4 linked regions of the Homo sapiens genome follow. The protein of the gene in region 3 interacts with the protein of the main gene of each other region in a pairwise test. Each region holds a gene or a part of one and is shown on either strand. Other genes may lie near its edges.

Region 1 (3,632 bases), on a different chromosome or scaffold from region 3:
CGCATCCGGTGATAGCCCTTCCTTTCTTTGTATATGACTTTTCTCCTTCATTTTATGTAGTTATAATAATAACAAAAGCTAATGATTACTGCCTGCTAGCCACATGTCAGGCACTGTCCTCAGCTCTGCAGATGTGTTATCCCAGAGAATCCTCACAACAACCTGGGAGGCTGACTACGGCATGATCTTCACTTTAAGATGAGTAAACTGAGGAACAGGGAGGTTAGGAGACTTTCCCCAAGTCACACAACCTGAACATGATGGAACCAGAAAAGGAGGCCAAGCGGACTTTGTGCTCCAGATGCTGGAGCAGTGTGACTGTGTGTGTGTGTGTGGGGGGGGGGGGTGCAGTGTGTTTGTGATGTGGTGGCTATGTGTGTGTAACATATGTATGTGTACACAGTGTATGTGTGCATAGTGTGGTGTGTCTGTGGTGTGATGCATGTGTGGTTGTGATTGTGTGTGTGTAGGGAAGGTCAATGGCGGAGTGTGGAATGCTTGCCCTCTGCACCTGCCCCACCTGAGGCCCTTGCAGTTACCAAGTTCCAGTCCTACTGACCTCTCTCTTTCATCCTTGCTAACAGGAAGAGATCCTGCCACGCTGGGGGGAAGGGGAGAAAGCAGCCAGGAGGCCAAGGCAGGAGGATGAGGGTCAGCTATGAGAAGGAGTTGGGCTCTTCTGCCCCAGGCCTTTCCTCATTCTGTCCTTTCCTTGGTCTTGTGTGCACCAAATCCCCAAGACACCACCAAGAGTGTTTTCCAGGTCCTGTGGCCTGTGAGCATCTCCTGGATCAGCCTGAACCCATGGCGTTGATGGGCTGCTTGTCCCAGCATGAAGTTCCCCCAGCCTTGGGGCTGTGATGCCAACAGGACAGTGTGGCCCAGCAGGCTGCCTGGTCTCACCCTTGCAGCAGACTCTCTCCCACCATTTCATGAGTTTGTCATGCTGCTGGTGTGCCTCAGATCCAGGCTAGAGAGCATCTGCCTGGTGCTGCACACCAATGATGGGTGGAGCTGGGCTCTGCAGCCCCTCCGCGTGGCTGCCCTTGGAAGCATCTTGAATGCAGTGCCGTGGGTTCCAAAGGGCCAAGAGGATCCTCTTGTATTCCCTGCGGAAGTTTTGGTTCAAGAGCCCATAGACAATGGCATTCAGGCAGCTGTTGAAATAAGCCAGTAAGTAGCTAGTGACAAATAGCCCCTCAGGGATCTGGGGAGCCATTTCTTGGGGGTTGATGGCCACAGCGAGGCCGATGCAGTTAAGTGGAGCCCAGCAGATGGCAAAGATCACAAACACCACAAACATGGTTAGAAAGCTCCGCAAGTCGCTGGGCTTCAGGCACAGCCTGCTCTCTGGCTTGGCTTTCCTGCGGGCCTGAAGCACCAGCACCCAGATGCGCAGGTAGCAGAAGGACACGACAGCGATAGGGAGGAGGAAGTGGATGACCACCACTGCCGCCGTGTACTGGGTGCTGGCGGTCTGGATGAAGGTGCAGGAATAGATGCGTGGGTCGTACTCCAGGGACCCCACAAAGAAGTTGGGCAGCAAGGCCACCACGGTGAGGAGCCAGATGAGGCAGATGTGCAGAGGGGTGTGCCAGCGCCGGTAGATTCGGTGGTAGGCCATGCTGTGGCAGATGTAGCAGTAGCGGTTAATGGCGATGGCAGTGATATTGAAGACAGAGCCGATGACGCTCAGGCCCATCACAAAGGCGCTGGCCTTGCAGTGCTCCTCCCCCAGGGCCCAGCCGTCATAGAAGATGGCCACGAGGATTAGCGGGTAGGGGTAGAAGGCCACCACCAGGTCAGCCAATGCCAGACTCACCAAGAACAAATTACCTGAAGCAGCAAACAGAGCAACAGTCAGCACGAGACCCCACGACTTAGATTCTGTAGAACATCCTACCCTCCACGAAGTTACTTTTGGCAATGTGAGTGGAAACCAAGTGGCTCTTAGAGGCACAGAACTGAAGACTCAGATTGCATTTCTGCCACTCACTAGCTATATGACTGAGGCAAGCTGTTTAGGCTCTCAGAGCCCCATTTTCCTCATTTGTGAACTAGGGGCAGTGATACCTACCTCATAGTATAGCTGTAAGAATTAATGATACAAAGTGCTCAGGGATTTAACAGGTGCTGACACATGCTAACTGTTTCCATGATAGGCACAGATGCTCACGGGCTTTGCACCATTTAAGCTCCAGCAAAGATTTCGGAGGAGGAGAGTCTGAAAGTCAGGAGTGTGGATTTCTCATCACTATCATCGCTCCCTCACATTCCCTCACCTCCTCGCACATCTCTCTGGTTGTCTCCTTTTGCATTTTCTCCCCACTGGTTAACAGGCTACTTTCTAAGTGTCTTTACATGGGTTTTGTAAATGTGAATTGCATTTTGCAGCTGGACTAGAAGAAAGGTGTTGAGAGTGGGAACCATGTGTTTCTGGTATTCCCATTTGTGCCCTGTCTGGGTCCAGTACTCCCAGCCTTGTGGCCATGTTGACAGACACTTGCAGTAGCGGCACAGAGCCCCAGCCCTGTGGGGTGAGAAAGGGCTGTCAGCACTCCTAAGCTCACAGCCTCTGGGGGGCCTCCCTGCTTTGCCTGCACCATGGTGGCCTTCCTGGACTATCTAGGCATTTATCCTTTGAATGGAGCCTTATCCAACATCACCAAGCTTGGTCAACCAGAGAGAGCCTCAGGAAATGATACACCCATCAATTAATATGCTTCAGGCATGTTCTAAGCTGGAGTCCCAGGGCAGAGGCAGGGCTTACTCTAAAAGAACACAATCTCTGCTCCTCAAGTGTTTGCGTTCTAAAACCAACACTGACTCACGAATAGAGCACCAAGAACCTAAACGTTTGGGCAATACAAAGCTCATAGTGTGAGCAGTTCCATCACTAATGCCAATCTTCTCATTCACCAAGTGTTGTACTTTTTGAATACCTACTGTATGCTCAAAAGATAACAGACTCTCCCTCCAGCAGGGTCCCTGAGTGATGCAATGTGCACTGGGCATGGTATTTTAAATTTTCTGGTCTCTTGCCACATGGTGAAGCCTCCAGCCTTAGGGTGGCGGAATGCAGAGGGCGGCTGGGATGGTGTGCAGGAGGAACTCCCAAGTCAGCAAAGACACAGACATGGAAACTCCACAGCCACCATGTGTCTGTCCCATTGCCACAGAGGCTGTGGTGGCTTTGGGGGTCTAGAGGGTCAGGCAGGTGGAAAGAGCCCCCAAAGCACAGCAATTGGAGAGGCCAGGCTCTGTGTGGATTCCACGGGGTACAGAAAAAGGGAGGCTGAGAGCCGCCCAGCTGGGATTTCACCTGAGTCAGCCCTTCAAGTGAAGTAGATGGCACACCTGGACTTATTCACCCACAAGGGTAGGAAAAGGACTGCCTCCAGCCTTCCCACATTCACCCCATCTCAAAGAAGATTCCCCATAGCATGGTCCGAATGGGGATGGGAACTTGAAAGACCCTCAGGAAGCCTTCATGAAGGGCCTATTTTGACCTCAGAGGAATGGGGTCAACCCCACTGAGAACCCACACAAGTCTACTGGAGTCCTGGGAGTTCTCAAGACCTAACTATAATACTACTGTGTCCACAGCTAGGTTAGGAAACCAGGGAGACAGG
Region 2 (2,498 bases), on a different chromosome or scaffold from region 3:
AGACAGATATTAGCAGAGGTTAGTTTACCGGCTTTGGTGCTGCCTGGTGGAGTCTATCAGCCATAGCAACCCAAACCAGACGAACCTACCTAGGACTAGCCACACAGATAGGCAGGTACATTTAAGCCTCAGATAAAATGGGCCTTGGTTGAACAAGCGAAAAAGAGAAAGCTGGACCTCTGTCCAGCAATCAGCCAGAGTGACACACACCCACTTTTAAAGGTAGAAGCACCACCAGCCACGTAATTTGAAAAACATGCTGGAGTAGGAAGCCAGTTTCAGTGATCAAAACTAGCTGCAGCCTTGGCCAACTGTTCCATTCTCTATCCCTGCAGCAATTAAGAGGGGAGGCAGGCTAGGGGTTTAACTCAATATCCCCTCAAGGGTGAGGAACATCCTCTCCTCTTGCTAGTAAAATATTGAGAGAAGAAATCACAGATTAAGTAAAAGGCAGTGTAGTTAGGTGTTAGCAAATATAGAGTAGGATACTAGGAAGTGAAGAGCATTCTGGAAAAACTTGCTTCCAGTGCTTCATCTATGCTTCAGTAGCTCAATGTATGGAAAGAGGCAAAGGTGAGGAAATCAGCATTAGCTAGCTGAGAATAGAGCTGGCGGTTAAGCCCTGAGGGGTTAGGAAGGCATATACTCCAGGAAATAATCAGCACACAGGCCAAGAGCCTCATTGTAGGCAGCACACAGCTGGGGCTCCCTTCCCCATGTGATTGGGGGCCTCTATTCTTTCCAGCTATTGCAGGCCTTTGATGTCACAATTGGGGAGGGTCAAGGTTTTCTGTTAAACGTGATTTAAAACTGTGCCTGACTTTAGGGGCTGAGAATCCAATTCAAGTCTGAACAAATTTTATTAATTAATCTGTTGTGAATGTAAATCAGATGTGTTTTTTTGAGTCCATGATAGGAATTCCTGCTTCCTTTGTAACACTGCTGAGATTATTAGTTAGTGTAGCCCTGTGCCCAGATGAATGAAGCCAGCAGATGACAGATCAGTTTGGAAAAGGGACATGCAGGGATTGCCATACAGACCTGAAGCCCAACAGTGGAACTGTCAGAGAGGGACGGATCCTTCTAAGAACAAAGAATTAAGACAATTACCAAGAACTCCACCAAGAGAGCACCAGGACAGTGATAGAGGGGTTGCCTCCTGCAGCCAGGGAATGGTATGTATTAAGCAGAAGGATCCAGGTTAAATGTCTAGTTGCTGCTGCCAACTTCCTTCCTACACAACCCCCCCTTAAATCACACCCACCCTGCCATGGTCAAAGCAGGAAAGGGATTCTCAGCCTCCAAGGTAGCTGCCCTAGCTAATAGCCTGGGTGCCCCTGGGAAGATACCCACTCTGCCCCAACTGTGTGCTCCCCAGAGACTGGTAGATATTAGAAAAGGTGAATTACCGCAAACTCAGAATAGGTGCTGGCAACAGAATTAATGCTGAAGTTGCGCTGGAGGGGGGCCGAGCCAGGGTACCCACCACTCAGGATGCTGCCGTTGAGCTCCAGGTTCTCCTTGTTGGCTCCATGCCTGCCAGTACGGGGTGTTTTCTTCCCTGAACAGGTGGAAGCAGCGACTGGCTGCAGAGAAAGGAAAGAGATCCATGTATCATCCTTCTAATGAACGTGCACACGCACACACAATACCTGCACTGGTCAAAGGCTGAGACTATCTTTATATTCATGTCTATAATCCTATACTTTTTAGTTAAAAAAAAAACATATATATATATATATATATATATATATATATATATATGGGGCTGGGTGTGGCTCATGCCTATAATCCCAACACTTTGGGAGGCCAAGGCAGGAGGATTGCTTGAGGCGACATGTTCGAGACCAGCCTGGGCAACATAGCAAAACACTGTCTCTAGAAAAAAATTTTTTTTAAATATGAATTCTTGATTTACAGAACACCTATCTTGAGCATAGTCTAATAAAATATTTGAAAGACTGAATGTGTTTTGCCACATACTTTCCACATCTCTACTGAGTACCTGGCATGTCTAGTGATCTGGTTTCACTGGGCTAGAACCCACATGTAGGGGACCTATCTCCATACCAGCTGAGGACTGGGCTTGGAATTGAGTCTACAGCGACCCTGCCTGATCTTCAGTTTCCCAGACACATCCCAGTGCTTCCCATGGTACCAGTGGGGCTCAGAGTGACTGTTCTCTTTTTTTGCACGTTAGTTTTGGACCATTATTTAATGGTGAGCTAGCTTATATCTGTCAACTCTCAGCATCTCAATAAGAACCAAATCCAGGGATCTTAGAATCTAGAACAAGTAGGTGGGGCCTCTGGGTGAACAGGCTAGGGACGCATGTGAGGATGTGCTTAGACACAGGGCATACTAACCTTGCTGCCAGAAGGAGGAAGTCGAGACACGGGGGAGTGGTAGACTGTCCCTCCAAAGATAGGCCGAATGCTACTATTGGCCGTAGCATTGGACATGGTGGTAGTGTTCAGCTAGGGAGAAGAGCACGTGGG
Region 3 (3,500 bases):
TTAATTCTTACTTTACCTATGTCTAGACTGCTATTAAACTTGCCCATTTTGCAAGTTCAACGAACTTTTGTGACTATTAAAACCCAAGTTCCCTGGTTCTCAAAGCTGGCAATCATTAGTACTGCTGCCCTAGAACCGTATCAGTTCATAGGCTTACTCTTCTGTTTGTAGTTTTGATTCCTTTTGTGAATCTTTATTTTTTTGTGATTTCTAAAATTATTTTATCAGCACTTTGAGGAGTTTTATGGTGGGAAGTTACACGCTGCTGTGCCAAAAGTCAACCACAATAAACTTTTAAATTTCATTTGAGCTCTGATCATAGCTGAGAAAAGGCTCCATTCTACTCAACACTTGACAAAAGCAACACTTCATTTGAAAAATGTTCAACTTGCCTTGTCTCTGATTTACAGGCTTCCATATTATCAGGGCAAAGATTCCAAAGCCTTGTTAACTCCTCACTACAAAATAGACACAGAAATAAATACATTTTTTATGGACACCATCCTCATGTGCCTTGAAACTGAACAGAAAAACAATACAATGTAAACAGTGGATTTGGGGATGTTGACAGTATGAGTTTTACTTTTCTCAATAATTTTTGGTATTTAAAATACCTAAAATTATTCTCTATATGAGCATATAATCATTAATCATGACTAATGATAATGATATAATCTTTAGTTTTTTCTAAAAATATTCCAGCACAATATAAAGCAATGAATAGTTAACTGGAAGGTAAGAGAACTCAAGGATTATGGTACCTTGCAACAACTGGAATCTAAACAATTCTACTGTCTGAAACGGAAAAAATGGCACAGCCTAGAGACACAGATTTTGGAAGCTGGAGACAAAATGAAGGTTTATCTGGTGCATGAACCCACACAATGGGCAGTATAGACAGTGCGGTTTGCTTTGGCTATCTATGTGTGTACCAAACACAATCTCATACTATATTTTGGATGGAGAGTTCTTAAAGTAACATCTTCAAAATATAAAAATAACTAAGAACATCCCACATGAAGACAAATTCACCTACTTTCCCATCAGAATTTTTTTGGTGGGTCCTTTCCCTAGGAAGTCCTCGGGTGCTGTTCTCTTCCGAATTATTCTCGTAGGTTTGGTATCTGATGTTCTGTCGTGAACAAAACATACACTATTTTTTGAATTACAAATGGATAACAGAAATAGAAGAATGTTTAACGTAAAAGAAAATTTAGTTATTGTTTTCCTCTTAAAAAAGATGAAAACTGGCTGGGCATGGTGGCTCATGCCTGTAATCCCAGCACTTTGGGAGGCTGAGGTAGGTGGATCACCTGAGGTCAGGAGTTTGAGACCAGCCTGGCCAACATGGTGAAAGCCTGTCTCTACTAAAAATACAAAAATTAGCCAGGCATGGTGGTAGGCGCCTGTAATCCCAGCAACTCAGGAGGCTGAGGCATGAGAATCGCTTGAACCCAAGAGGCGGAGGCTGCGGTGAGCCAAGATCATGCCACTGCACTCCAGCCTGGGTGACAGAGTGAGACTCCCTCTCAAAAAAAAAAAAAAAATGAAAACTTCATATTATGATAGAACAATTATCAGATATAAGATAAAAATGCCACATTATATGGCAAATTACACGGAGTAGATATACAGTATTCTTCTCAATAATAAGATGTTTGTTCCAGGAATTTAATGACAAGAAATTTATGAGGTTTAAAAAATACAGAGGTAAATCAAAGTGGTTGTACTCTTACAAAGTTCAACTTACATTTTTTATGTGAAATATATACATGTATTTTTACATGCTATAATCATATCGGAGCACATTTTCAAAAGCCTTTCTCGTCGTTCTTGTGATGAGTATGTATTTACCTTTCTTTCAGTATGTATTTACCTTTCTTTCACAAAACTTGGGCAACCTTCATTTTTCCACGAGTTCCAGTTTTCTTCAGTGTTTAATATATGCTGGGAAAAACAAAGCGATTACATTTTGGTTAGTGGAATCCTCTGAAGTTCTATTTCGTGCTAAGAAGAGGATGTAAGCATAAAAAACACATACCTCTACCATCTTTGAAAATCTTTCTCCATCGGGGGGGTTTTCAGATAGTAGCTGTGATTAGAAAGAATATACTAAGCTTTCAACAACTTTCTGCATCATAGGAGTGGTTTGTAGGCAGAGAACCAAGGAGTGTTTGTGGTCTTGTACCTGAGCTTAACTTTATCCTTATTTTCCTATTTGGGGCTGAAACAAAGAAAATCCTAAATTTCCATTTTTTCAATCATGGGTTTGTTGCGTGTTGAACTTACTTGATAAACTGATTTTGTAGTATCTTCAATCCAAAGTGATTGCTCATCAGTTAAAACATAGTTTGAACTAGGGAACAAAGCAATGAAAGCATGCTTGAGTTACAGCAATGCATATGCAACTTTAAGGTTTAAAAAACACAAGGCATGTAACATGTAACTATACTGTGGATAGTGTCAAAAATTACCAAGACAAGAATAATCACAAATGAGAGGATTATAAGAGAAAATTCTTGCACTTCTTCCTCAAGAGGGTTGGTACTGAAGACATAAAAGCATATGCAGGGAATAAAACATTCAATTAATCAATCAGATTCACTATGAACAGAGCAATATATGTTTCCTAAAATAAGCTGAGTGTGAAACGAAAACTTCTGATTTGATATTAAGATATGTGTATACATGATGCACATTCAGTATGGCATGCTACATTAAGATTCATTCAAAATACAACGAATAAAACACCCAAACCCTAGAAAAGGCAACAGGCAAACCCAAATTGTTAATAGCTGCCACTAACTGAGCTCTCATAATGCACTAGGTGATTTAAAGACATCCAATAAATATTGATGGCTAGGATCTGAACACTTTACATACATTATTCATTGAATTCTCGGAACAAGTACATGTACATATTAAACAGAGACTACCGTGTCTCACTGATTTGCCCAAGGCCATAAAGATTTAATTCAAACCCACGTCTCACTTCAAAGTCCCTCATCTTCCTACTATGCTATACCAAACCTCCAAAATAGATAGAAGGATAAGAAATAACATTTTTTGAGTGTTTACCATGTGCTACTACCTTAAAATTACAAGTCTGAAAGAGCTGCACTGCAGCCAGCAAATGACGAGCCTGGGATTCAAACCCAGCAGGTAGTGAAGTCATTATACAACTAATACGGCATTGCTCAGTGTCCTTAACACAAATACCGTTAAGTAACAGTGGGCTCCACCTTCAGTTATGGACAGGATAGGAGGAAATGGATGGAAGTATTTAGATAGACAGTAGAGAGCCTAATGAGGTTTTGTGAAACCCCAAATAAATGAACTCCTTTTTGCTTAAAAATTTTCTTTGCATCTTTTAGCTTGAATGTCCTGCAGAGCTCCACACCTTGTGAGATATGTATTACTGGCTTAGTCTGCAAATCAGCTTTGGAGGAGGTCTGAGGGAGGTGAGAAGGGAATGACGGAATTTTGGAGCAGAGACCTCC
Region 4 (3,500 bases), on a different chromosome or scaffold from region 3:
GATTGGAGTTCTGAGTATTTGGTTGACAGACCTACACTCTAATCTCTAAACCCAATTTCTGCCTTTCCAAATCTAGGGCTTTGGTTATATAACACTTCTGGCCTCCTAGTACTCCTTGTGGCTTATCTTCCCATTTCCTGCCCCAATATCTACCAATTACCTCATAGGCATAATCCTGGCTCACCCCACCCCATCACTTGTACACAAATGTGAGGTCAGAGGTGACTAGAAAGATGGAAGACAGTGGCACCAAGATATGATCTGGTCTAACCCACTTGGCAACAGCCTTTCCATAACCCCAATCAACGGGGGTGCTCACACATAAACCTACCTTGAATCCAAATGAATAGTTTTTGTTCTTTCTTAATTAACTTCCAAGTGAACAGCTACATACAGATCTCTACAGGAACCTAGAAAGAAACAGACCTAAGGATAGAAAGGAAGGCAGAGGAAAGAAAACAGAAGAGACTAAGATGATCTAATGCCTATAACAAGGATTATAACATATGCTTTTGAATATTCAAGGCTATGTTAAATGTCTCCCACCTGTCTGCTCTTCCTCAATGATTCCCTAATCACCCCAAGACCTGCAGCCTGATTACACCTCCTGCCAACTTTGAAGTCAGTCATTTTCCCAATAGAAGTTACAGCTCCTTTCCTGAACCAAAAAAAATGAGGTGCAGAAATAGGTAGTGGAACATAGGCAATTGTACTTACAAGGCAGGCAGGGAACATAATGGAGACTGTTATTTTAATACCATCTGTGCATGTCCTTCCCCTTCCCCATGCATACCTAGATCCTACTTTATTCACCACCTATGTCAGCCTGCTTATACAGCAGGAGTTCTCAGGAGATGCTATCCTTCCCACCAAAGAAGAGTCACGCCCTACAAAAAGAAGGCGGAGCAACTAGCAAAAAATAACCCCAAGAGACTATGTTAACAATGGTAGAAAAATAGCAGGTTAATGGACAGATTCCCAGAATTCGGATTCTAACACCTCCTTTTTGAGAATCAGAAACTAAGTAAATAAAGTCTCCCAACTCTCATAGCTCCTCAGATATCCACCATCAGAAATGCCATGAATTCTTCTGTGGGACTATTTCTGCACCAAAATGAGAGGGTCTGTGAGGAGTGGCTGGAGATGGAGTTTTGGTTTCCAGAACCATAAACTGAAGAAGCAGATTGACTTCAAATGTTCTAAATTGACCCTTCAAAAAGATTACCCCTCTACTCGGAACCCACATTCTCACACATCATTACATTACTTAAAGTGGATCAGCATGTTGAGAAAACAGATCCTGAACAAGAAAGGTGGAAAAATACTACCCTGTTATTTACATGGACCACTGTTGTGAAATTCGACTAAGTCCACACCCTATTTGCTTGCACAAAACTGGATGTGGGGATCTAAATATGTAAGGCAATAAAACAGTGCGGTATTATAAAAGGCGGTTAAACATTTCATTTTAGTGTCTTCATAATTCACCCACTCAAAGTTCCACTTTTGGAGAACCCAACAGACCTATCACGCAGACAGGAGACTTTAACAACCACCTGGAGCCTGTGGGAAGGGACAGCACCCAAGACACGGGGTCCCACAGGCCCCTTTCCGGAATCAGGGCCCCGAGTAGCGAACGCGGCCCACCTCTCGTGGGCTGGGCACAGAGCTGGGACGCCGGCTCCCCCCGGCCTTCCCGGGAGCCCCCCACAATGGCTCCCGCTCCGCCATTTCTCCCGCAGGAGCTCCCCCACAGCCCTTTCCGGGCACAGACACCGTCGAGGGCGGGGCGCCGGCGCCTGCAAAGCTGGCTTGGAGGCGGTCAGCGCGGTTCTCCTCCAGACGATCTGACGGTGCCTCTCAAGCCAGCCCCTCAGCCCTTGGCCTGGCTCGGCCTGCACCGGTCACCGCCTCCCCATCGCCAGGGGTCTCGAGCACTGCGCACCTCTCTCCGGCGACCGGCTCCGACCGGATCGTCTCCTCCTTGCCAGGATGTCAGGGTCGGCGGGGCAGGCTGCCAGCCGGTCCACCCTGGCGGACCACCCCAAGCTCACGCACCCCCACTTGCCTTCAGAGGCCCAGGGCCCAGGTCGTCGACCTCCCCCTCCTCTCCTCAGCTCTCCTCTGGCGGCTCCTCACTTCGATTCTCACCGCTTTCCCCGCTATCAGAATGGCAAAGACGCGTCCCGCCCCCCACGCCTCTGCACCAAACTGGGCAGGGGCTGCGCAGGATGCTGCAAGAACCGCTCTCTCCGCGAGGGTGTCGGGAAGGGGGGCGGAGGGATACGGCGCGAAAGTGCTCGACGCCCCCCTCTCAGGCCCACCTTAGTTCCGACCCAGAGGTGGGCGGGGCCATGACGAGCCCCAGCCTGGGCCTGCGGGTTGGCACCAGGCTGCCTCAGGAGGACCCCCGCGGACCCTAACGTGGCGACCACCACCACCACATTTCTGGCGTTGCTATAATATAGGGACGGGCGGGCGGCTGGGGACCCAGGCAGGGGACAGGATCAGGAGGTTGGGAAGAGCCGCGCTGGAGGGAGCAGCGGATGGATACCAAACCGCCCCTTGGTGTGTCTGCACCCCCGCCCCAACTCCCCAACCAGGGACTGCTGGGTGTCTGCCCCTTCCCTCTCCCCAGCCCTCTCACTCTCCTTCCTGGAAGCTAATGGGAGAGGGGGTGTCAGCAGTGCAGTCTGGGAGGGGTGAGGCGATTTCAGGCCAAACAAGCCTGGGCCTCTAGGGTGGTCCTCTTGTGCGTTTCTTTCCCAGCTTCATGGAGCCACGCAGGGGAGGAAGGTACACCTGCTCTTAAGTGAATTCTGGGGCAGGGGGCTCCCATCAAGGCCTCACCACTGCCCCTCTTCTAACAGAAGGTAGACCTAGACCTCTAACCCTAGGAAACCAACCACTGGTCTGTACCAGACTCATTTCTTTCTGCCACGCCGCTTTTTCTCATTTCAAATGGTGGCTCAGGTTGGCATTGCGCCGTCCCCACAGTTGACCCCAAAAGAGGGCCTTTCCCTGTCAGGACTCGCAGGAGGTCGTAACAGTCCTCTCTCTTTGATGGCACCAGGTAGGGATGGTCTTGGCGCCTCTCCACTGTTCTGGGAGGAGAGGGGACCACTATTCGCGCACTTCCTCGAGGCAGATCCCAGATTCCAGCTGCGCTCCTCAACTCCTCCTTTTCTCCCAGCCTTGCACCCTGCCTAATGCATGCATGTGCTTTTTTCTTCTGAATATATATATATTTTTTTACTCTCCCTTCCAAGCGATGGGGAGTTTGACTTGTTAGACTGGAAGTTTCCTGAATGAAAGTACCCTTTTGGTATTGTTCCCCACTGTATTCTCAGCACATTGTAGACGGTATAGTCAGTCAAGGGTTGAAGGAGGTGAGGGGCTACTGAATCATGACAATTCCATGGTACCCTCTGTGGTTTGCAGATCAATGCTAATTCATAGGTGTGTCTTTGCTGCCTGTAACCCCAGGGCTTAGCCCAGAG

Evidence for each region.
Region 1: the proteins of THOC1 (region 3) and MTNR1B interact in a two-hybrid assay, tested with the Homo sapiens proteins (one large-scale study listed by BioGRID and IntAct).
Region 2: the proteins of THOC1 (region 3) and PRC1 interact in a two-hybrid assay, tested with the Homo sapiens proteins (one large-scale study listed by BioGRID).
Region 4: the proteins of THOC1 (region 3) and GPRASP3 interact in binary tests that used the Homo sapiens proteins (3 or more experiments, as listed by UniProt).

Annotation. Positions count from the first base shown.
Region 1 is NC_000011.10:92,979,651-92,983,282, reverse strand, and holds the end of MTNR1B (melatonin receptor type 1B), read right to left. Parts: intron 1,837-3,632; coding exon 971-1,836; 3' UTR 501-970; downstream 1-500.
Region 2 is NC_000015.10:90,968,038-90,970,535, forward strand, and holds part of PRC1 (protein regulator of cytokinesis 1), read right to left. Parts: intron 2,478-2,498; coding exon 2,367-2,477; intron 1,587-2,366; coding exon 1,410-1,586; intron 1,084-1,409; coding exon 1,042-1,083; intron 1-1,041. UniProt on the Homo sapiens protein: Key regulator of cytokinesis that cross-links antiparrallel microtubules at an average distance of 35 nM. Essential for controlling the spatiotemporal formation of the midzone and successful cytokinesis.
Region 3 is NC_000018.10:223,048-226,547, forward strand, and holds part of THOC1 (THO complex subunit 1), read right to left. Parts: intron 2,357-3,500; coding exon 2,290-2,356; intron 2,093-2,289; coding exon 2,042-2,092; intron 1,948-2,041; coding exon 1,877-1,947; intron 1,154-1,876; coding exon of another isoform or gene 1,133-1,153; coding exon 1,037-1,132; intron 459-1,036; coding exon 393-458; intron 1-392. UniProt on the Homo sapiens protein: Component of the THO subcomplex of the TREX complex which is thought to couple mRNA transcription, processing and nuclear export, and which specifically associates with spliced mRNA and not with unspliced pre-mRNA.
Region 4 is NC_000023.11:102,744,743-102,748,242, reverse strand, and holds part of GPRASP3 (G protein-coupled receptor associated sorting protein 3), read right to left. Parts: intron 2,265-3,500; exon of another isoform or gene 2,069-2,264; intron 427-2,068; 5' UTR 332-426; intron 1-331. UniProt on the Homo sapiens protein: Survival and differentiation promoting protein that plays a role in the regulation of neurosynaptogenesis. Induces phosphatase PP2A activity which results in APP dephosphorylation and inhibits BACE1-mediated processing of APP.